3 linked regions of the Homo sapiens genome follow. The protein of the gene in region 1 purifies or fractionates together with the protein of each later gene. This does not show direct contact. Each region holds a gene or a part of one and is shown in the gene's direction. Other genes may lie near its edges.

Region 1 (8,378 bases):
AAGATGTGGGGACATTAGAACTTTTATACTCTCTTGAGTGGAAGGTAAATTGTTATAATCACTTTAGAAAGCAATTTGGCAATATTTAATATTTTAAGTTTTTCTAAGCAGTTTTCCAGGGGTTGTTGTGTTATAGGGTATACATATAACACAGCAACTCCTGGAGATATACCTTAGAAAAACTCACAAATATGTACAGAGGGACAGTTTATAGCAATGGTGCTGTAGTAAGATTTTGGCTATAACCTGCCTGTCCATCAATAAGAAAATGATTAAGTAAATTGTGGTTTATTGAGACAATGGAATACTATGTAGCAATGAAAAAGAATGGATTAGAGCTGCATGTATCAATATGGATGAATTTCACAAACAGATGTTCAAGGGAAAGAGCAAGTTGCACAATACATGTTCATACCTAGTTTTCAGTTTACAGATCTTGCACATTTTTGTCAGATTTATCCCTAAGTATATTTTAAGTGTTATTGAAAATGGTATTTTAGGCTGGGCCTGGTGGCTCATGCCTGTAATCCCAGCATGGCTTTGGGAGGCTGAGATAGGAGGATTGCTTGAGCCTAGGAGTTCAAGATCAGCCTAGGCAACATAGTGAGACCTCCACTTTACAAAAGAAATAAAAATAGCCAAGCATAGTGGATCATGCCTGTAATCCTATCATTTAGGGAAGCAAAGGTGGGGTATAGCTTAAGCCCAGGAGTTTGAGACCTGCCTGGGCAATATAGCGAGACCGTGTTCTCTACAAAAGAGGGGAAAAAAGAAAAAATAAATAAAAATTTACAAAATTAGCTGGGCATGGTGGTGCATGCCTGAAGTCACAAATACTCAGGAGGCTGAGGTGGGAGGATCACTTGAGCCCAGGAGGTTGAGGCTGCAGTGGACTATGATCATTCCACTGCAGTCCGGCCTGGACAACACAGTAAGACCCTATATCAAAAAAAAAAAAAAAAAAAAGAAGAAAACAGTATTTAAAAAATTCCAATTTCTAATTGTTCCTTACTAGTATATAGAAATACAGTAGACTGTTGTATATTAATCTTATATCCTGTAACTTTGCTAAAATCACTTATTCTAGTAGCTATTAAAAATAGATTCCATCAGATTTTCTCTATATTTGACCATGTCATCTGTGAATAAACACAGTTTTATTTCTTCCTTTTCAATCTGAATGCCTTTTTTTCCACCTAATGCTCTGGTTAGAACCCCCCATACAAAGCTGAATAGAAGCAGTGAGAACAGACATCTTTGTCTAGTTCCCAATCTTAGGGAGAAAACATACAGTCTTTCACATGAAGTATACTGTTAGCTATGGGTTGTTTTTTGGAGATGCCCTTTATGAGATGGATGTAATTCCCTTCTATTCTTAGTTTGTTCAGTGTTTTTATTATGAAAAGGTGTTGGCTTCTCCCAAATGTGTTTTTTGCATTGACTGGGATAATCATGTTTTTTCATATGGTCTGTTAGTATGGTAAATTATATTGCTTGATTTTCAGATGTTAAATCACTCTTGCATTCTTGTGATAAATCTCATGTGCTCATGATGTACTTGTCCTTTTAAATATAAAGAGACATCCAATTTGCTAAAGTTTTGTTGAGAATTATTGCATCTATGTTCATATAGGTATATTGGTGTATAGTTTTCTTGCCTTGTAAGGTCTTTACCTGGTTTTGATGTCAGAGTAATGCTGGACCATTCAGTGATTTGGGACGTATTCACTCATCTTCAACTTCCTTGAACAGTTTGTGCAGAATCAATATTATTTCTACCTTAAATGTCTGACTCTGGGGCTTTCTTTCTTTTCTTTTTCTTTTTTCTTTTTTTTGAGGCAGGGTCTCACTGTGTCACCCAGGCTGGAGTGCAGTGGCCCAGTCACGGCTCACTGCAGCTTCGACCTTCCAGGCTCAAGTAATCCTCCCACCTCAGCCTCCCAAGTAGCTAGGATAACAGGCGTGCACCATGATGCCTGGCCAAATGTTTTGCATTTTTTATAGAGATGAGGTTTCACCATGTTGCCCAGGCTGGTCTCAAACTCCTTGACTCAGGCGATCCTCCTGCCTCAGCCTCCTAAAGTGTTAGGACTACAGGTGTGAGCCACTGCACGTGGCCAACCCTGGGGTTTTCTTTGTGGAAACATGTGTTAGTCTATTTGCATTGCTATAAAGGAATACCTGAGACTGGATAATTTATAAAGAAAGGAGATTTATTTGGCTCATGGTTCTGTAGGCTGTACATGAAGCATAGTGCCAGCATCTGCTTCTGTTGAGGGCCTCAGGAAGCTTCCAGTCATGGCAGAAGATGAAGCGGTCCCTGAATCACATGGTGAGAGAAGGAACAAGAGAGAAGGAGGAGGAAGTTCCAGACTCTTTCAAACAACCAGATATTGTGTGAACTCATAACTGAGAATTCACTCATTACTGGGGAGGATGGCACCAAGACATTCATGAAGGATCCATGATCCAAACCCCTCCCACCAGGCCCCACCTCCAACATTAGGGACTACATTTCAACACGAGATTTGGAGAGGACAAACATCCAAACTATATCAGAAGGTTTTTAATTGCATATTCAATTTCTTTAATAGATGTAGGCCTATTTTGGTTATCTATTTCTTCTTGAGTGTTGTTAGATTGTATTTTTCAGTAATTTGTCCATTTTATCCATATTGTGACATTTCTATCTGGTGTAATAAGAATAGTGTTCATATCAAAGTTCAATTTCTCCATATCTTTTCCAGGTAACTCTCCCTTTGGTGCTTTGAAGCAATATGGCGTCTTGACTGGCTGCCATGGCCCCCACCTTTCCTCCTAGGCTCAGCCCTTGACATAACTACTCCTCACTACCCTCTCATCTTCCCCCCACCTTGTATCCCTCTAGCATTCCTCACCTGAAGAACTTAGGCTTTCTTAAGTCTCTTTAGTTAGCAGGAAACTATCTAATTTAAAAACCCTCTCCAAGTTGTTTATTACTTAAGGGATTAGTCCTTCCAAGAGTATTTATGTTTCAGAAGAGAATGTCTAGATAGGATTGTGCATAACAAAAATAAGTCAATTTTTAATGGTGTTATTGTAGGCTCTGTGACAAGTAGGGGAGGGAAGCACTTTGGGAAATGGACTCTCCTCTCTTTCAAATATTATTCAAGTACAAGTTTGCGCCTGTTACTCTTCTGCTTTAAGACTGTCTACAGGGAGTTCTCCTTGTCCTTTGGTCAAAGTAAAATGTTCAACACAGCCTTGCAAGATCCTGCCGCTTCTCGGAGCCATCAGACCCACTCTTGATGCTCTGCTCTGGTAGAGCTCTGCCCTGGCCCTCAAACTGTTGGACTTCTCTGAGAAAGCGATAGGTGTGCTCAGATTTTAAGGATGAGGTGGAGAAGTTCAGAGAGAGGGCATTTGCTATGGAACTGAGGCTACCAAAGTGACGAAGAGAATGCATCCCTGTTCTCTAGGAACTCAAGGTTTAGTGGCCTTATAGAGTGGAATAGCACGCCAACAGTGGGGCCAGTGACTGCCAGGCTGACTAGAGAAGGCAACTCTCACTGTGGATATAGTCGGAAACTGGCTTTTCTGCTTCAGCGCTGTGGACCAGCAATTGACCTTTCTTCCCTAAAGTTCATTCACTTGATACCTTCCAGAAGGAAGGTCACCCCCTGCCTGGGTTGGCTATGGGCCAAACCCCTGCCCACTCCAAAGTGTGGCTTGGAATGCCATGGTCTGCTTATTAAAAATCAGATTTCGGGAGGCCAAGGCGGTCGGATCACGACGTCAGGAAATCGAAATCATCCTGGCTAACACGGTGAAACCCCGTCTCTACTAAAAATACAAAATATTAGCCGGACGTGGTGGCGGGCACCTCCCCGCTACTTGGGAGGCTGAGGCAGGAGAATGGTTTGAACCCGGGAGGTGGAGCTTGCAGTGAGCCGAGATTGCACCACTGCACTCCAGCCTGGGCGACAGAGCGAGACTCCGTCTCAAAAAAAAAAAAAAAAAAAAAAAAAAAAAAAAAAAAAAAAATCAGATTCCTGTTCCCCAGGCATCCTGAATCATCAGGGATGGAGTCTCAAAATAAATGTACATTTATTTATTTTTTATTTTTGTATAGACGAGGTGTCGCTATACGTTGCCCAGGCTGGTCTCAAACTCCTTGGCTCCAGCAATCCTCCTGCCTCGGCCTCCCAAAGCACTGGGATTATAGGCCTGAGCCACCACGCCGGCCTAATTGTACTTTTATTTTTTTGAGACGGAGTTTCACTCTTGTTCCTCAGGCTGGAGTGCAATGGCACGATCTTGGCTCACCGCAACCTCCGTCTCCAGGGTTCAAGCGATTCTTCTGCCTCAGCCTCCCGAGTAGCTGGGATTACAGGCATGTGCCACCACGCCCGGCTAATTTTGTATTTTTAGTGGAGACGGGGTTTCTCCATGTTGGTCAGGCTAGTCTTGAACTCCCGACCTCAGGTGATCCGCCCGCCTCGGCCTCCCAAAGTGCTGGGATTACAGGCGTGAGCAAGTGCGCCCGGCCTTAAATGTACCTTTTAAACCAAGTTCTGCAGTAGATTCTTAGGCATTAAAGTTTGAGAGCCATGTTTCTGAGGGGCGTCATGCTGAAGGCTATATATTCTTGCGGCCCCCGGACCGAGCCTAGCCCTTGCATTCCCACCCTGGGCTCTCTCTCAGCGACAACTTTTCCCAGGCGTCGGGGCTTCCCTCGAGCGTGGCGACCCCGCAGACATGGTGCCAAGAGCCAGGGTGGGCGGCGGGGCGGGTGGGAGAGCGGCGGCGCTGGGGGCGAGGGCACCATGCGACCGCGGGCGCCGGGACCACAGCGCGCCGGGAAGGAGGCCGAGGCGGCAGGAAAAAAGCCGAAGATACTTGGGGGGACCGAGGGGCCAAGCGACGGAGGGAGGAACAGAATACAGCCTCGCGCTGGTCCCGAGCACTGGGACGCGCGGGGAGAGCAGGAGGCCGGGCGGGGAGGTTCGGGGCGGGGCGCGCTACCCGCAGTCCCCGGAGCTCGGCTAACTCGGCGCCCAGTGCACGGCCGCACCATGGGGTCCCGCCACTTCGAGGGGATTTATGACCACGTGGGGCACTTCGGCAGGTATGGGGGAGGGGCCCCGCGGCGCCACGCGGGAGGCGGCGCCGAGGGGTCTGTTTCTTTCCGTTGCGGCGGGGTTCTCGCGCGGCGCTCGCGATCCGAAAACATCTCCACTTCCTCCTCACCCCGCGCAGTCGGGACACGGGCGTCCAGACGCCGGCCCCTAGCTGGGCTTCTCCTCTAGGCCTCTGGCAGCGGGACCTGGCATGGTGAGCAGAGGCGCTGGGCTCGCTCGGAGTGCGCCTGTTGCCGGGCAGGAGGGACCTGGTGCGTGCTCTCCGCGGCAGCAGATGCTGGAGGCATCTGGCTGGAGATCTGGCTCGAGGGGCCAGATCTCACTCGTAGGGGGTGCCTGTGCCTGGCCGCCCGTTTCTCTAATCCGCCGCCACTTCCCTAGACGGCTGCTGCCCAGTTCTGCCCTGCGCCTCCGTAGGGCCTCCCTCTGTGCCTGGCAGGTGTTCCCCAGGGACAACCGTTAGTCAGAGTTGGTTGCCGTTTATTAAAACCTAATACGTGCCAGGTACACTGTACCTGGCGCTTACACATAGTTCTTCATTTGATGTTCACCGGGACCCTGCAAAGGAGGTGTTCAAATCCTTATTTTAGTGATTGGGAAACAAGCTGGCGGGGTCAAGGACTCATAGCCAACGCATGGTGGAACCACGTTTAACCTCCGTACACCCTCTTTTCATTTGTCAAATTGATTTAAAAAATTTAAATTATTCATTCGTTCGTTCACTCATGGACAGAGCTCCTCTATCTGACTCAGAGTGTTTTGAGAGGGGAGGTAGCCGGGTGAGGGGCCATGCAGCGTTATGGCCGGAGATTTGGAGCTGCGTCTCGATCCTGGCCTGCTACTTACCTCTGATATGATTCTGGAGATACTTTGTGTGTCAGTTTCCTATCCAGAAAACGGGAATCAGGCTTAGCAAAGAGATGATGTGGTGCTGTTCTTCAAGGTGGAAGGTTGCATGCGTTTTGGTTTTGATTCCCAGTGTCTGCAAAAAGGAGCTGTTAGGACAGAGGAAACGGGCAGGAAGCCCCAGCTGTTCCCTTCTTCCTCTGCTTGCATCATTGAACGCTGCCTTGTGCCTGGCTCGGTCATAAGCCGTTGGTACATGTTACTTCCTTTAATCTTCACTACAGCCTTATAAGGTTGGTAGTATCACCCTCTTTTCACAGATGAGAAAACCAAGGTTTCTGCCTAAGCACAAATCTAATACTAGCAGGGCAGAATTGGATGCCATTGGATGCCCATCACCTCCACAGCCCACACTCTCAACCATGATGCACTCCTGAGCACGGTTAGGTGACGGCTCCTCAGCTGGGCCAAGCTCTTTATGTATGATCTCATTTCATCCTTCTGGAAGCAGAATAGCACAGAGGTTAAAAGATCAGTTTTAAGGCTGGATGTCTAAGTTCCCACTCTGGCGCTACCACACATTAACTATACGGTCTTGAGCATTTTATTTACCACTTTCTTATCTGTAAAATGGGGCTAATAATAGTACAAATGTTTTCAAATAGGAGTAGTGAAAATGTGTATATGAGGACTCTGCATGCAGTTTCTCATCCTTACAGTAACTCAATGAGGTAGGTGGTACTTACATCTTAGTTCCCCTGTGTTTTTTAGGGATTAGCTGAGGTAATTATATTAGTTGGTGTTTGACTAAAGTGCCCAATCAAACAGATTCCTCAAATGGAAGTTTATGCCTCTCCAGTAACTGCCCACAGCAGGATCTGTGCCACGAGACCATTCAAGGACCCTGGCAGGTGGGACAGCTCTGTCATCCACTGCATGGGGCTCCCTGTCTGTGCCTGGAGCAGCTGCGCACCCATGGTGACAGCTCACTACGGTGAAGAGGGGGCAAATGGGTTTGAGGAGACAGCTCTTAGCTGGCCACCATAATGTATGCAAAAGTCTTATTATTCAGTAAGTTCTCAATAAGTCATGGCTATTATCATTACCTGAGTTCCCATATTGGTGGTCAGGGTTGACTCGTGAAAGCAGCTTACAGGAGGGAAAAGGGTAACAAACCACTGCTTATATAGCAGAAGATGAAGACTGTGTGACTGCAACACAGTACCACATTTTTCTCAGGTATTTGTTCTAATTGGTATCTATTCTTTATAAACAGAAAGGAAAGTTATTGTGATGATTATTTAGTCCTCTCTTTAAGGGATCCTAGTGAAAGTGTTAAGTAGAGCAGTGGTCCCCAACCTTTTTAGCACCAGGGACTGGTTTTGTGGAAGACATTTTTTCCACAGACCTGGTCCCTAACCTTTTTAGCACCAGGGACTGGTTTCGTGGAAGATATTTTTTCCACAGACCTGTGGTGGGGTCGGGAGGATGGTTTCAGGATGGAACTGTTTCACCTCAGATCATCAGGCATTAGATTCTCATAAGGAGCACTCAGCCTAGATCCCTCGCATGTGCAGTTCACAATGGGGTTCACGTTCCTATGAGAATCTAATGCCGCCGCTGATCTGACAGGAGGTGGAGCTTAGGAAGTAATGCTCGCTGGCCGCTGCTCACCTCCTGCTGTGTGGTCCAGTTTCTAACAGGCCATGGACCAGTCTGGTCTATGGCCTGGGGCTTTGGGACCCCTACAGTAGAGAACCCTGATTACCTCTCATTTCTCATTGGTCATTTCTAGAATAAGGAAGCACTATTCTAGTCACCTTTAAAAGGGGAAAACAGGCCAGGTGCGGTGGTTCATGCCTGTAATCCCAGCACTTTGGGAGGCTGAGGCAGGCAGATCACGAGGTCGGGAGCTCGAGACCATCCTGGCTAATGTAGTGAAACCAAGTCTCCACTAAAAATACAAAAAAATGAGCCTGGCATGGTGGCGGGGGCCTGTGGTCCCAGCTACTTGGGAGGCTGAGGCAGGAGAATGGCGTGAACCCAGGAGGCAGAGCTTGCAGTGAGCCGAGATTGCGCCACTGCACTCCAGCCCGGGCGACAGAACGAGATTCCGTCTCAAAAAAAAAAAAAAAAAAAAAAAAAAAAAAAAAAAAAAAAAAAAAAAAAAAGGGAAAACAGGATACCTGAGAAGAACTAAAATACCATTCCAGGATTTCTCCTGAAACCATATCGTTTCCATAAACTTCACAGCTTAAGCTCCATATGAAAAGAAATTGAGAAGACTGAAATTTAGGCACCTGTGTTGGGAGGATCTGAACCTGGATCCCTGAGTTAGTTGTCCTGGGTTAAGAGGAGAGACGGTTTAAAAGTTTAGAGTTGGAATGTGGAGCCTGTGGCAGACCTTCATCA
Region 2 (7,514 bases), on another chromosome or scaffold:
TAGTTTGTTAGAAGTAGACCTGGGATTTTAACTCAGATCTGCCTGCCACTTCAAGCCCATATCCTTAATAAACACTTCATTGCTTACTATGTGCCAGGCTTTGGGAATAGTGTAGTGAATAAGTAAACAAAATAGATACGGTTCTTGTCCTCCCAGAGTCTCTTGTGTGGAAAAAGAGAGGAAAACAAGCTACTATTATATGTTATAATAAATGCTATGGAAGGGAAATGCAGAATGGAGTGCTATGAGAGCACAAAAGCAAACAAACTAGATTTGGGGTGCAAGGGGGAGATAAGGGAACATTTCCTAGACCAAGTGTTGGATAAACTAAGTTAGCTAGATGAAGCCAGTAGGATGATGGTAGAGTGCGTTACCTGCAAGGCGTGGTGGCTCACCCCTGTAATCCCAGCACTTTGGGAGGCTGAAGCAGGCGGATCATTTGAGGTCAGGAGTAAGTTTGTATTACCTGTCATGGACTTTAATTGTCTTACAACAATATTGACTTTCCATTTGATCATTCACTGTGATGAATGTCATTAATATTAATAACTGTTCCTTATTGAGCATATAGTATATGCTAGGCCTTTTACATATATCTTATTTTCACATCAACCCTGCAAGGTTTGTTAGCGACACATGCGTACAGTGAGACTAACAGAGGTTAACTAATTTGTCCAAAATATTACAGTTATGGCCAGGCGTGGTGACTCTGGCCTTTAATCCGAGCATTTAGGGAGACCAAGGTGGGCAGACTGCTTGAGTCCAGGAGTTTGAGACCAGCCTAGCAACATGGCAAAACCCCATCTCTACAAAAAAATACAAAAATTAGCCAGATGCGGTGGTGTGTGCCTGTAGTCCCACTCGGGGCTGAGGCAGGAGAATCGCTTGAGCCCGGGAGGTGGAGGCTGCAGAGAGCCGTGTTCACGCCACTGCATTCCAACCTGAGTGACAGAGCAAGACCCTGTCTCAAAAAAAGGTAAAACAAAAAAAAAATTACAGTTATGGAGTAAGCAAGGACTTAAAAACAAGTTTTATCACATTTAAAAGCTTTCTGAAAGCTTCTTTCCACTGTGCCCCACAACCATTCAGTCTAAGCATAATATGATTCTAGTTCTATATCATTAGGCCATTTGCCCTTAGCAGTGGACATGCCCCTTCTATGTTCTTAATTCAAATATGTATTTTTAAGGAAGATCTGCTTAACTTAGAGGGTAGCTTTTTCCCTCCCTTTCCAATAGTGTCAGCCTATTTGTTTATGTTTTTAATTCTTTATAGTACTATACTTTTAAGTAGGTGCTTGCTTTGGTTATTGTCCTTGTTTTCAGGTGTTTTAAGCCTATCAGAAAGTTCCGTATGTAGCTGCACAGTAGTATTGAAGCAGATATGAGTCTCAAAGCCTTACTCCTTAGCTGTCTTGCTTTTGAAAAAATATAGAAACTAAAAGGGTTTTTGAGCTTTGGAAAGAGGTCAGTCACTAGCCAGTCAGGTTTCTGCAATGTATTCTGTGCTGTCAATCCATTGTGAACACTGATTATTCAAAGAAATAATAGTTATTTAGATTTAAAATATTTTAAGTTTAAAATAATAGGTTATTAAGATAGCTATTTATTAATGGCCTGATTTATTAAAATTAGTCATTTAAAATATTATCAAATAATAAAGCAGTGTCTGAATTATTTCTCCTAAATGTTCATTTGAGGCAGTAAGGTGATTGCCTGCTTTTCCTCTCTTCACTCTTTTTATAGGTATTGATGATATTGATGGAATTTGGAACATGAGCCATTAAATACCTAGAAAAAAATTCCATAGGGTTTTAGGTAATTGAAGCAAAATTAATATTGCTACTTTTAGTAGGAGACTATCTTATTTTGCCTTTGTGAGGCAGAATCTTTTTCCTGTTTGTTGGAGCCACTGGCCACCAGGTGGTGCTTTTTGCATTCTTTACAGAATAACACGACGGTTTTTCCTCTGGTTACTGTCAGACATTGTCATATTTAGCTAATTAAAATTTCCAATGACAAATATAATGTAGGAAGTTAGAACTAATATGAAACTTCTTGCTGTGGTAGATAGCTGTTCAAAGAAGGAAGAGTTTGTTACTGAATTTGTTGGTATCCACTGAGCTTTAGTGTTGTCTGCTTCCCTCTCTCTGATTCTTAGGCTATGGTGGCAGATAGTTTCTTGCAGTTGCCAGCAACTAGGTTCTCAGATTATTCGAGGTCCTCAGTATATAGAACCTTTGGACTTGTCCACCTCAGTGCTAAACATTTTATCTTTTATTGGGTGCTTATTTCAATGCCTTATCTGAAATTTATCTGAAATTGTCTCCTAGAATCTATATGGTTCCAAGAAAAAAAGTAACCTTATTTATAAGATTTCTCTTTTCTCCCTAAAAGCCATAGTAGAAGAATAAAAATGTTTGTTTGAAGTGTCCTTCCATAGGGTATTTTTCCTTATCGTTATCTACTGTTTTTATTACCTTTAGCACTCTGGGTGTCCAGCCAACTCATCTTAAGTTCAAGGAATCAGTATTTTGCAGTTTCTTCATTTTTGTTCTGATGGCTTTTTTTAAAAGTATAATCCCAGCTTGGTTCTGTTGTTTAAGGAGAGCTAAACTTATAATTTAAATCTGCATGATATACATATATTAAGTTTTAATAACTCACTAAAATTGTTTTTTAAACAAAGAATACAGTTTTTCCGGCCGGGCGCGGTGGCTCAAGCCTGTAATCCTAGCACTTTGGGAGGCCGAGGCAGGCGGATCACGAGGTCAGGAGTTCGAGACCATCCTGGCTAACACAGTGAAACCCCATCTCTACTAAAAATACAAAAAATTAGCCAGGCGTGGTGGCAGGCACCTGTAGTCCCAGCTACTCAGGAGGCTGAGGCAGGAGAATGGCGTGAACCCGGGAGGCGGAGCTTGCAGTGAGCCGAGATGGCGCCACTGCACTCCAGCCTGGGTGACAGAGCGAGACTCCGTCAAAAAAAAAAAAAAAGAGAATACAGTTTTTCCCCTTATGATTGTGGAGTACTTAAAAATCTGTACACTTTAATTTTTACTTTAACTGGTTTATATCATCCAGGAAACCAAAATACTTGTAGGATCCAAGAGGCTAGATTAATATATTTTAGTAAACACTAAGATAGCCATACTTATTGACCGGCTCTAAGTTAATGGGAACTGTAGAAAATTTTGCTCTTACTTTTGATCATTTACACTTGCCTAAGAATCATAGGTTTATCTCTAGGTCTCTGGTATCCCCCAAAATCAAAAAAGAGTGCCTGTCTCTTTGGAAAAGTTGTTTTCTTTGTCAGAGGCTGCAGATTCAGGAAAGGTATGAATTGAGTCATTTGAAGGAGGATGAGGCATGATCAACCCTCAGATCACAAGGCTTAACTTTATAATTTCAAGACATTAGAAGTCTGGTGGGGATTTGCATTATTTTTGCTGGTAATTAAAATGGCAATTTTATATTTAGAATTGGCTTAATTTTGTTATGAAAATAAATCAGTATAAAGATAAATATTTACTTTTTTCAAAATAGGTAATAAAATAGACTTGGAAAAGGAGAGACATGTTTCCATTCAAGAAGCAGAGTCGTAAGTACTGTGACCCTCCCATTCCCCATCACTCCCTAGTAGAAATCTTCCTCTTTATACGTTTTGCTTTACCATTTAGGTATTACTCAAATCTCTTAGCATGGATTGAGGTGTTGGATTCAGTGAAGCATGTTTACATGGTAATTTCTGGGCTTGTGGCAATAAAGCCCTTACTTCCCTTTTTGACTTCAGTGAAAAATACGAGTGATATAAAACAAAACTATCATGATCAAATAGGCAGTAAGCCAGAAAAACTTTTGAAGTATTTGAGTCCCAAATTAATCTATAAAAATTTCGAGGCTTGTTATATTTGTGTTATTTAAAATTTGATTTAATGTATAGAGAATTTAAATAGCTATATAAACTTAATTTCACTAAACTTGAGTAAATTAATATGTCACTAAAACTGTTACTATAAAAAAGCAGTTAAGACAAAATCATGAATAATATTTTACATCAATCACCGATGTTACTTTTTTTTAAGGTATGCAGAATCTGTGGGAGCAAAACATTATCATACTTCAGCCAAACAGAACAAAGGAATTGAGGAACTCTTTCTTGACCTTTGTAAAAGTAGGTATATTCAGATTTAGTTTGTTTAGAAATGGTTTTTGGTTTTTATTTTTTAAAAAATAGTATGTATTTTACACCAGTGTTACTTTTCAAAGAATTGGTTCTTTTTAAACTATTGACTATTGGTAGTATTTCTGAAGTGCTGTAACTATTTTTTTTAATGCTTAAATACCTACTTTAACCCTGTTTCAAGCAGTAATTAATGGTTATGAAATCATAAGTATGGTGTGGGCTAAATATATATTATAATATATGCATAAGTATTAAAAGTGGAAGGGGAATTTACATATTAAAACAGATTTAAGACCTGTAACAACCTCTTGCAATGAATGGACCTTATTTGGACACTGATTTGTCAAACTAGTGAAAAAGAGTGTTTGTGAAACAAGATATTTGATGATATTAAGATACTATTAATTTTTTAGGTGTGATTATGGTATTGTGGTTATGCTTTATAAAAGGAGTTCTTATCTTTTAAAGACACATTAAAATAATTTAGGAATAAAGTTATGGGTCTGAGATTTGACTCAAAATAATGGTAGGGATGCTTAGGGTTATTCATGAAATTGGGTGATGGATTTTCATTATGCTGTATTTTCTACTTTATGTTTGAAATTTTCCATATTAAAAAGTTTATAGTTTTAAAGAAAAAGGAAAATAAATTTATATATATTCTGAAAATCATTTCTTATATTACCAATAAAATGCATATCTGAGTTTATGGACTTTAGACTCTTTTGAGAATTTGATGAAATCATGGTTTTTCTCTCTAGAAAAGAATATTGATATGTGTGTGTGTGTGTACACACACACACACATTTTGGAATAAATTAGTTTTATAAAACCCTCAAGTCATTCATAATTCTTCTAAAATATTGATTATGTAAGTGATGTCCCCTGATCAGCAGCATCAATATCACTTGAAAATATGTCAGAAATGCAAATTCTTGGGCTCTCCAAGCCTGCCGAATCAGAATTTCTAGGGATGGTGCCCAGAATCTGTGTTTTAACAAACGCTTCATATGATTCCAATGCACACTAAAATATAAGAGCCAATGCTGTACATAACAACTTGGGGATCTTATTAAATGCATATTTTGATTTAATAGGTGTGGGATAGATTGAGGTCCTCATTTCTACAAGCACCCAAGTGGTGGTGATGCTAGTCATCAGGATATCCTCCTTCCTTACCTCCCTCCCTCCCTCCCTTCCTTCCTTCTGATAATGCTTTTAAATAACAATGCACTAAGTCAGTGGCTTACAAATGTTATAAATATCACATCTTCAAAACAATTTTTGCATGCTCCACATGTTTATTTAGAAATTATATAACATGTACAAGTACTAATATGTACATTTTAAAACATACCTAAAAAATAGAAATTTTGGAAAGTTAAAAATAAGTAGATATAGAATTTATAATGTTTTCTTATTTCCTCTTGTTGGATTGTCCCACATACCTCAAATTGTAAACCATTAATCAAGAGCAGTCTCTAATTTAAGAGCCCTTTTGTATTTTAAGGACACCCTCTTTTCTTCCTTCATCTTCTCAAATACGTGTTTTGTAAATACTTTCTCTCAGTCTGTGTTGTGTATTCCCATTTTTCTTACCTGTGTCTCTTAAAGTGCAGTTTTAAGTTTCAGTGAGGTCCAGTTTATCTATTTTTCTTTTATGATTCATGTTTTATGTCTTACATGAGAACTCTTTGTGTAAGCCAAAGTCACAAAAATTTTCTCCTATGAAGATTTTTCTCCTGTGTTTTCTTCTGGAAATTTTGTTTCATGTCTTACATTTAAGTGTATAATTCATTTTTCGTTGTTTTTTGCATAAGATGTTAAGGTGTGGGTTAAGGTTGATTTTTTTTTTTTACAATAGATGTCCAGTTCTATTAATACTACTGTTTTTTGAAAATATTCTTTCTTCATTGAATAACCTTGGCAACCATGTCAAAAATCAAGAGACCATATCTACGGGGTCTATTTCTGGACTGTGTTTTTTTGGTTCCACTGATCTATTTCTCCTATCATTGTCTCACTGTTTTGATTAGTGTAGCTTTATACTAGTTCTTGCAATCAGGTGGTGTGAGTCTTTCTGCTGTGTTCTTCGAAGTTCCCTCATCTTAAACTCCATTATTCTTCAAATATCGCTGTGGTCAGGGACAGTGGCTCACACCTATAAGCCCAGTGCTTTATGAGGCCAAGGCCATAGGATCACTTGAGCCCAGGAGTTTGAGACCAGCCTGGGCAACATAGTGAGACCCCCATCTCTAGCAAAAAAAAAAAACTCAGCCAGGCATGGTGTTGCATACCTGTAATTCCAGCTACTCAGGGACTGAGGCAGGAGGATCAACTGAGCCCAGGAGTTAGGGGCTGCAGTGAGTAAGTGATGATCACACCACTGCACATCCAGCCTGGGTATCAAAGCGAGACCCTGTCTCTCAAAACTAAAATAAAAAGAATCATTTACTTAAAAGTATTACATTTCTAGTTGAAGAATAAATCCTGCCCCCTAAATATTACTTGGAATAATTTGAACTTCTTTGACATATTTCTAAGTGTGTTTGGAAAATCTTAAGGATTATACTTGTACGCAGGCAATTGTTCAGAGCAAAAAAATTTTTTTCTTTATTGATATCACTGTGGCCATTATACCACTGGATAAATAAGCTTACTACTTGATACTAGTTTTTGACACTAGTTTTTTAAAACATGCAGGTGAAGCTGTTTTAGTGAGCTGACCCAATGTTCATTATATTTAGTTTCTTTGTTGGTCGAAAGTCAGAAATAGCTATCATAGTGTTATACTGAAATTTTAGAAAGAGAAAACACAAATATTGTGGTCCTAATAATGTTTGCTTTCTCTCTGTCTTAGGGATGATAGAAACAGCACAAGTGGATGAGAGAGCAAAAGGCAATGGCTCTAGTCAGCCGGGAACTGCAAGGCGAGGTGTACAGATTATTGATGATGAACCTCAAGCCCAGACCAGTGGTGGAGGGTGCTGTTCTTCTGGATAACTGTTCACGCCTAAGAAATTAAAAGACAGAACAAAACTGTGGATCATTGCCCTCAACATGAAGACTGCCATATTCCAAGTCACATTATTTTACCAATGGAATTATAGAATTAACAGTATTTTAAATTACGTTTATAACACTGCAGAGACCTTAAGTGCTAAACTTAGTGGAGTTTGTGACCAGAGAATTGGCATTTTCTACAAATGTTTTTTTTTGTTTTTTTTTTGTTTTTTTTTGTTTTTTTTTGAGACGGAGTCTCGCTCTGTCACCCAGGCTGGAGTGCACTGGCTTGATCTCGGCTCACTGCAAGCTCCACCTCCCAGGTT
Region 3 (7,514 bases), on another chromosome or scaffold:
AAGGCATACAAATGTTAAAATATTACAAAATAAAAAAGTCCTTGGAGCAACTGCTCAAAACATACTTGTTTTTGAGAACTTGGGTCTGTCTATCAGATTCCGTAACTCAATTAAAAAAAAAAAAAGATTGGCTGGAGGCAGCATGCCACCACGGAAGGACCGACTGTTCAGGTGGATAACCACCCACTAGATTGTTCTTCTTGGGCCTGGTCTCGCGTTACAGTTGCCTTTTCTACTCATCTTCCCTGTTGGGTTGAAAGAGTTTAGAATATGAGAGCTGTATCCTGCCCACTTAGTGTTTACTGAAGGCCACCCAGAACCAAGTCCTGTGCCCTGTGCCAAGACACAGTGATAGGTGGGCAGGGACCCTCTCTCATGGCACACCTGGCTCTGGTTATGGAGACTGATGAGTTATGTGTCATGTTGTGATGCAACACTGGAATCTGTACCAGGCTCACGGGAGAAGAGGGACTGTGAAAGGCAGGAGGAATGGTGGTGGGTGGGCACTGCGAATGGGCAGATTGCAGGAGCGGAGGTCCGGCGACAGGGTGCATCCCAGCCTGCTCGGGGGCCTAGAAGCATTGCCCAGGAGCCAGTCAGCACCTGGATTTGGACCCACCCCAAGATCTTTCTGAATATCTACCACTGTAGGGGATGTGTGAGATTCCCGAAAACCCTCCAAGAAGCCCTTGTCCTTTACTAATAGGGCTCACTTACTCCCCACGCTGGCTCTAACTAACTGATGAGAAGGGCTTAAGAGGAGTCTAACTTGACCCAATGCACTTTAACAAACTGGATTAACTCGAAAGAGGGAGAAAGTGATGATAAAAGCGAAAATTGCCATAATATATAATACTACACATCAGTTTCAGCTTTAGAAGAAATAAGAAGCATTTGCTTCAGTTTGGTAAGTTCCAGCAGTTTAGAAAGCAAGAACAGTGGTTCTTTTGTCACTTGGAGTTAATTATAACAAAGTACTTTGCTGTTTAAATGATAGGTGTAAGTTTTGTTTCTGAATGTTGAAGAGTCAGCATAAATGGACTGTCTTAAAGTTAACTAATTTTAAGATATTTTGTACTTTTAAAACCAGTTTTTGCTTTATTTTAGTGATGGAACAAAGTTAGAAAAAGAAATTAAAATTAAATTCTTCTCATACTATACCCCCCAAAAATGTCAGAGGAAATAAAAGATTGAAATGTATGGCTTGAAGCCATGAAAGTACAATAGAAGATAGATTTTCTACACGTCATATTAAACGAAGAAACCTTAAATTAAAAAAAATAGGAAATGTGAATATAAGAAATTAGACAATTTAGAAAAGAAGTAACAGGAATGGATAAGTTAGGGAAAATATAACATTTGACAAAGTCCTAGTAATCTTAATATGTAGCGAGTTCTTAAAGATCTTTAAGAAAGACAACTCAGTAGGAAATGTGCACAGATGGCCATACTCATGACAGGATCTCCACGTCACTAATACTGAAAGAAACACATGTTCAACAATGTGCACTCCAAGGGAGCGGGGAGCGGGCAGGGGCACACAGAAAGGGCAGTGAGGATGAGTGCCACATGCTCTACATTGGCAGCCCCGTTATTTTTGTAGTTAAAAAATGGAAAATTATATAAAAAGCAAAAATACCAGACATTAAACCTCAGTAAAGCTCTTCAGACAAATAAATAAGCATGGCGAGCACTAGTGTGGAGATGAAACCCCGCAGCAGGCTCCTGAGTTCACCTCAGTTGAGAACCTGGTGTGTTGCTGAGGAGCATGGGAGGTGCTCTCCTCCCATGAGAGGTGGTTTGAAAGTGCGAGTAGTCACAGCTGATGCTTTCAGAAGTGCCCCCCGAAGGATCCCTGACGGGTCTGGGGTGGAGTCGCACACCCTCATTGAGCGCCTCACACAGCCTGGTTCTTATGTTATGCTCTATGTGGTTCTGGCTGCTGGTGCATAGAACCCTGTGGTGGAGGGAGGTGTGGGACATCGGAGAAGGCCAAGAAAGGTGGTGAGCTTTGGCTGACAGAGAGCTTTGGAAGGGTAAAGGCTGGGGACAGGGTAGTAACAAAACCTTCAGTATCAGCAAGTGGTGGGGAGAGTGAATTGGATTTGCTCAGAAATCCCGAAATTCGTGATGATCAAAAGGGACCTACTGTAACAACAAAAAGAGCCCAATAATACTAAAGGCGATAGTGGTTAAGTAGAATTAGGTTTAATATGGGGCATTTGCCACAGTGAGGATTGTGCAGACTCAGGTGGGTACTAAGGGAAACAAGATTTAAAGAGCCCCCACCCCTTCCCTTCCCTATGCCAAAACCTCTACCCGGGAGGTTGTCCTCATGAAGCAAAGCAATACCTTCCCGCAGCCACTCCTGGCCTGTGCTTAGGAGATGACCTGGATTCCAAATAATTGTCAGGAGAGTAGGGATGGGTTTGGAACACTGCACCCAGTGTTGTGGGCATCCTGGTGCAGAGACCCCTTCGGGATAAGAGGTGGCTTGGATCATCTGGCTTTCCAGACAGCTTGAATCAAGGGTGTTCCTTGTCTGCCCCTGTGGACGCTCCTTTGTGGGGACACATCTGTGATGCTGCCTTCCAAGGGGCACATTCATTCATGGGGGTCATTCCTCTCTGGGTGACCTCTGTGACTTCGTGGACCCTGGGGTGCCACTGACAGGCCCTTTCTTCTCTTTCCTTTGCAGAATCCACACTGCCCAGGTCGGGGAGCAGTGGTGGCCAGCAGCCCTCAGGGATGAAGGAGGGTGTCAAGAGGTGAGCCCGAGAGCCTGCTTGCTCCCGGCACTGCGCTCCGCCTAAAAGCCTCTTTCCTCACTGGGTACCCCTCTCCTTGCCTGAAGCCCTGGAGGCTTTGTCTCACATAATTAATCTCAGTTGCATTGAAGGACAACCCTATGGTATAGGTATCACTGGTCCTAGTTTAAAGATGTAGAAACACCAAAAGGGGCATAGGGGAATTGATTGTTAATGTTCCTCATGCCCAGCAGTTTGAGAGGCCAAGGCAGGAGGGTTGCTTGAGGCCAGGAGTTTGAGACCAGCCTGGGCAACATAGCAAGACCCTGTCTCTAAAAGATAAAAAATTAGCTGGGGGTGGTGGTGTGTGCCTGTGTAGTCCCAGTTACTCGGGAGGCTGAGGTGGAAGAATCACTTGAGTTCAGGAAGCTGAGGCTGCAGGGAGCTGTGATTGCACCACTGAACTCCAGCCTTGGTGACCCTGTCTCTAAAAAAAAAAAAAAAAAAAAAAAAAAAATCATTTAAAAAAGCTAGGACTAAACAGTTGAGTGGCTGGAACTTCTGCATGTGTGTGCACATGCAGGCATGTTTTTAGAGAGATGAGGAAGTGGAGCCCTCCCAGTGCTAACTGTGGTTGTCCAGATGAACTGGCTCCAGGATGTTGGTAACTTTGTGAGCACAGGCCACGACCCCAAGAGCTGGCCACACCTCTGTCATGGGACCTGCTTCCTGTCGCCGGAGAAGTTTTAGCAAAGTGGTTAAGGCACAGAGGCCCCAGTGGAGCACAGGGTGGCATCTTGATCCTGCAACTTACTAGTTATGTGAACTTGAAATATCACTGCATCTAAGAAGGGCTAAGAAGAGTACTTCTTTAATTGGGATCTTGTCATGGTTAAATATGTTTATATATATCATGCACATGAGCACAGCACCTGGCCTACAGAGTTCTCAGTGGATGCTCACAGTAGTTGTTACTGATTGACCTCTTCAGCATCCTTGAGGAAATTGCCCTCAGTATGGTCAGAGGACCCAGTGGGTCAGCTTAGGGGGCCCAGTGTCAGCCATGGTTGGGCGTTTGCCCTCTAGTAGTTCAGCCATGTTGGGTCTGTTGCATAGCCATGGGTTAAGACCCACATTCTAAGATTTACTCTCCCTAATCGGTCTTAGCAAGAATAACTCACCTGGCCAGGTGTGGTGGCTCAATCCTGTAATCCCAGTGAATTTAGGAGGCTAAAGCAGGAGGATTGCTTGAAGTCAGGAGTTTGAGCCCAGTCTGGGCAACATAGTGAGACCCTGTCTCTACAAAAAAATTAAAAACGTTAACTGGGGGGTAGTAACACATGCCTGTAGTCCCAGCTGCTCAAGAGGCTGAGGTGGGAGGATTGCTTGAGCCCAGAAGTTGGAGTTTACAGTGAGTTATGATTGCACCACTGCACTCCAGCCTGGACCACATTGTGAGACCCAAAACCAAAAAAAAAAAAAAAAAAAAGAGGAAAAAAAGCCAACTATTAACCTGAACCCTGCTTTTTTGGTACTTTTAAACATTTTAAAAATGGTAAAGTAATGCCTGCTAATGAAAGATTTAGAAAATATACAAAGTGAAAAAATCACCCATAGACTCATCATCTCAAGACAACCACTGTTAATATTTTGGAGTATTTCATGTTCTTCTCCACCCAGTCCCCTCACCCCCCGTTTAGGGTTATTTTTTGAATGTCATAGATAATTTCATATCTTGCTATTTTCACTTAGTATTATAATGATTTGTCATTAGTTGCACCTGCTTTATAAGCAGTTTTATTGCTAAAAGCATTTATTGGTTCTCAGTTTTTAGATTCAACCTACAGACAAATGAAAGACTATTTTCTAGTGATGATGTCATAGATCATTATATGATCACACCATATTTTCTTTAGCTTGACCTTGATTTTGGGACATTTAGGTTGCTTGCATTTTTTTCACTACAATAAATAATACTGTTAAGAGCATCTCAGCACTAATAACTTTTTTATTCTCTATAGGATTATTTTACTAGGCAGAATGCCCAGAAATAGGTCAAAGGGTAGGAAGATATTCAGAATGAAGAGTTAAATGTTCAAAACAGAGGACTACTACCATCTCAAATCTTCAAGCTCTCAAGTGGAGGCAATCCGTGGATTGAGCCCCTCCCTGAGACTCTCACTGGGCATGGGGCTGCCTACTTGGCCAGGTCTCCTCCTGTTCCTGAGCTGTGTTGTCTTGGCTCAGTGTCATTGTCTCCTCTTGTCTGGGGAGCTGTCACTGATGCCTGAGCTTGGGTGTGGAATGATGGGGCATGCGGTTTCACAGCACTCTCTCCTTTCCTGACCAGCCGCTGGCTGGTTTCAGCATTTCCCTGGTGGCTGAAGTGAGTGCGCAGATCTTGTCTTGGCTATGGGCTGCCCGTCATGCCATCCACATCTGTTTCTCCTCATGTTTCTTCTGCACAGGTATGAACAGGAGCATGCTGCTATCCAGGATAAGCTCTTCCAGGTGGCAAAGAGGGAAAGAGAGGCTGCCACCAAGCACTCCAAGGCATCCCTGCCCACGGGCGAAGGCAGCATCAGCCATGAGGAGCAGAAGTCAGTCCGGCTGGTGAGTGCAGATTTTCCCTGATCTGGCCTTCTGAGCTGGGCAGCACCCTGGGAAATAGGGGGCGGGCCCTGGCACCTGGTTAGTCTGAAGCCCTGCTGGCTCAGGCTGCCCCTGGGATGTGCTCGGCTTCACCTCTGTGGAAAAGGGTCTTTTGGGAGCCAGGAACTGGGGTTCTCCCAGCCCTGGCTCTGTCAGTGATTTGCTTTGCTGCCTTTGGCATGTTTTTGCAGTCTCTGTGGCCTCAGGTCTACACAGTAAGGGACCAGACCACTCAACAGTCTCACTTAGCTCTGAAACTTCACAGATGTCAGGGCTGCAGTGGTATGTGTGTCAGGAGCGTGTGAGGGCAGAGGACTAGAGGCCTGGAGCCATGTAATATATGACAGGGAGGGCATCATCTTTAGAGTTAGGCAGGTTGGGTGCAAATCCTGGACACCCTGTCTGTGAGTCTTGCTTGAAGTTCGTGATGTTTACACACAGGACTGCCCAGGGAATCAGAGGAGATAGTATTTGTCCAGGACTTAGCACATGCTGGCAGACCATGGGAGTGCACTATTGTTGTTATCATTAATACATTTAAGTGATGGGTGGCTATTAGGATCTTTTTGCTTAAGTGCAGCATTTATTTTGCAACATGAGAAGTCTCAAGTGCCCCCAGGGTTGACTAATTCAGTGGCTCACTAGCATCATCATGGACCTGGTGCTTCTCTTCCTGCCACTCTGCCATCCACAGTGTGCCAGTGCATCCTAGGCAGGCTGTCCCCATGGTTAATGAAGGCTGTTACTGCCCCACAAGTCCCATGCAGACAGTAAAACCCTCAGTAGAAGAAGAGAGGCTGTGCCGACCCTTGTGTCTCTATCACAGGGATAACTTTCCTAGAAGCTCCTGGCAGAATTCCTCTTACATCACACTGGCTTGAATTGTACCAGGTGCCCATGGCTAAGCCAGTCCTCAGCAGAGGGGATACAGAGGGCTCCACTGACTGCAGCTAGGGCTCTTTTCTAGTCACATTAGGGAGGTTGCATATCCAGCTAGAATTAGGACTGACAGCAAGGAAGTTGGGGGAGGGAAGCATGGCTGTGGGCGGCATCTAATAACATCTGCTGGAGGCCATGAGGTTTGAGACCAGGAACAGCCTTGCACTACTTTAGGTGGGTAGCCTCGTACACACGGTGCTGTGTAGAAGGGGGTTGAACACGATGTGAAAGCATCATTTGGGATTGTGCTCTCCTGGGAGGCCAGACATGCTGGCTGGGCACAGGCCTTAGCTTACTAATTTGATGACTACACAAATGTTTGAAGTGTGCAGTAGGCACATAAATGCACTTTGAACCAGGCCCTCTGGGAAATACAAACAATGTAGGATCCTAGCCCTCGGGAAGTTTTAGTCTGTGGAGAAGACAAACTAAGAACTTTGAAAAAGGCCAGATTGGTTACAGTAGTTGTTAAATTGAAGAAAAGATTTGGAAATGCAAATGTATAAGCTGCTGGTGGATCAGAGCTGGTAGATCAGAGACGGCATTAAACTCAGCCTTAAGGCTGAGGGGCAGTTGGGCTGAGAGGCAGGTGTTGAGAAGGTGATCGGATCCAGTGAGAAGAGTGAGGTTTGAAGCTGGATTTTAGAAGGCCTTGGATGTGCTGAGGAGTTAACCCTCAAAGTAGCCCGCATCGATCCTGAAACAGTCAATGGTTCCTGAAGTTTGTAAGGATGGGAGTGATGAGATCTGACTTGTGCTTTTAGAACCCCATGGCATCCTGGTGAGGAATCGGTTGATGCAGTGAGAAACCGGGGCCAGGGCATGCCTTCAGAGGCTCTTGCAGTCAGTCTCTGAGAGGCAGATGGGTTGTTACCCCTCTGCAGGCAGCCTGACAACCAAGTAAGAAGGACCCCTATCCTGGAGATGACGCGTTAATCAGTATGGCATGAGCAGGAAAAGTTGGCCTCCTCTAGAGGTGGAAGATTACAACCTACAGGTCTGCTGTCTCTTCGTTCTCACCTGGAATGTATTAATTACAGTGAAAGAATTCACAGCTTCCCATTCTTACTCCTGCAAAGGAGATTGAGCGCCGCTTTCTCAGGACTATCCCTTGGGGAAGAACTTGATTCCCATCCCCCTCAGGTCTCTAGATGGATAATAATCCCCTTTTCTGAG

What was found. Proteins that work in one complex are often made in the same cells at the same time.
Region 2: the proteins of SLC22A16 (region 1) and RAB21 purify together in Homo sapiens (affinity purification with mass spectrometry; 3 studies listed by BioGRID and IntAct, with this or other methods). This does not show direct contact.
Region 3: the proteins of SLC22A16 (region 1) and CHCHD6 purify together in Homo sapiens (co-immunoprecipitation; 3 studies listed by BioGRID and IntAct, with this or other methods). This does not show direct contact.

Annotation. Positions count from the first base shown.
Region 1 is NC_000006.12:110,473,251-110,481,628, reverse strand, and holds the start of SLC22A16 (solute carrier family 22 member 16), read left to right. Parts: upstream 1-5,015; 5' UTR 5,016-5,054; coding exon 5,055-5,107; intron 5,108-5,176; exon of another isoform or gene 5,177-5,310; coding exon of another isoform or gene 5,311-5,371; intron 5,372-5,966; exon of another isoform or gene 5,967-6,112; intron 6,113-8,219; exon of another isoform or gene 8,220-8,378. UniProt on the Homo sapiens protein: Facilitative organic cation transporter that mediates the transport of carnitine as well as the polyamine spermidine. Mediates the partially Na(+)-dependent bidirectional transport of carnitine.
Region 2 is NC_000012.12:71,778,486-71,785,999, forward strand, and holds part of RAB21 (ras-related protein Rab-21), read left to right. Parts: intron 1-3,545; coding exon 3,546-3,600; intron 3,601-4,084; coding exon 4,085-4,173; intron 4,174-7,045; coding exon 7,046-7,188; 3' UTR 7,189-7,514. UniProt on the Homo sapiens protein: The small GTPases Rab are key regulators of intracellular membrane trafficking, from the formation of transport vesicles to their fusion with membranes.
Region 3 is NC_000003.12:126,727,863-126,735,376, forward strand, and holds part of CHCHD6 (MICOS complex subunit MIC25), read left to right. Parts: intron 1-2,698; coding exon 2,699-2,768; intron 2,769-5,215; coding exon 5,216-5,360; intron 5,361-7,514. UniProt on the Homo sapiens protein: Component of the MICOS complex, a large protein complex of the mitochondrial inner membrane that plays crucial roles in the maintenance of crista junctions, inner membrane architecture, and formation of contact sites to the outer membrane.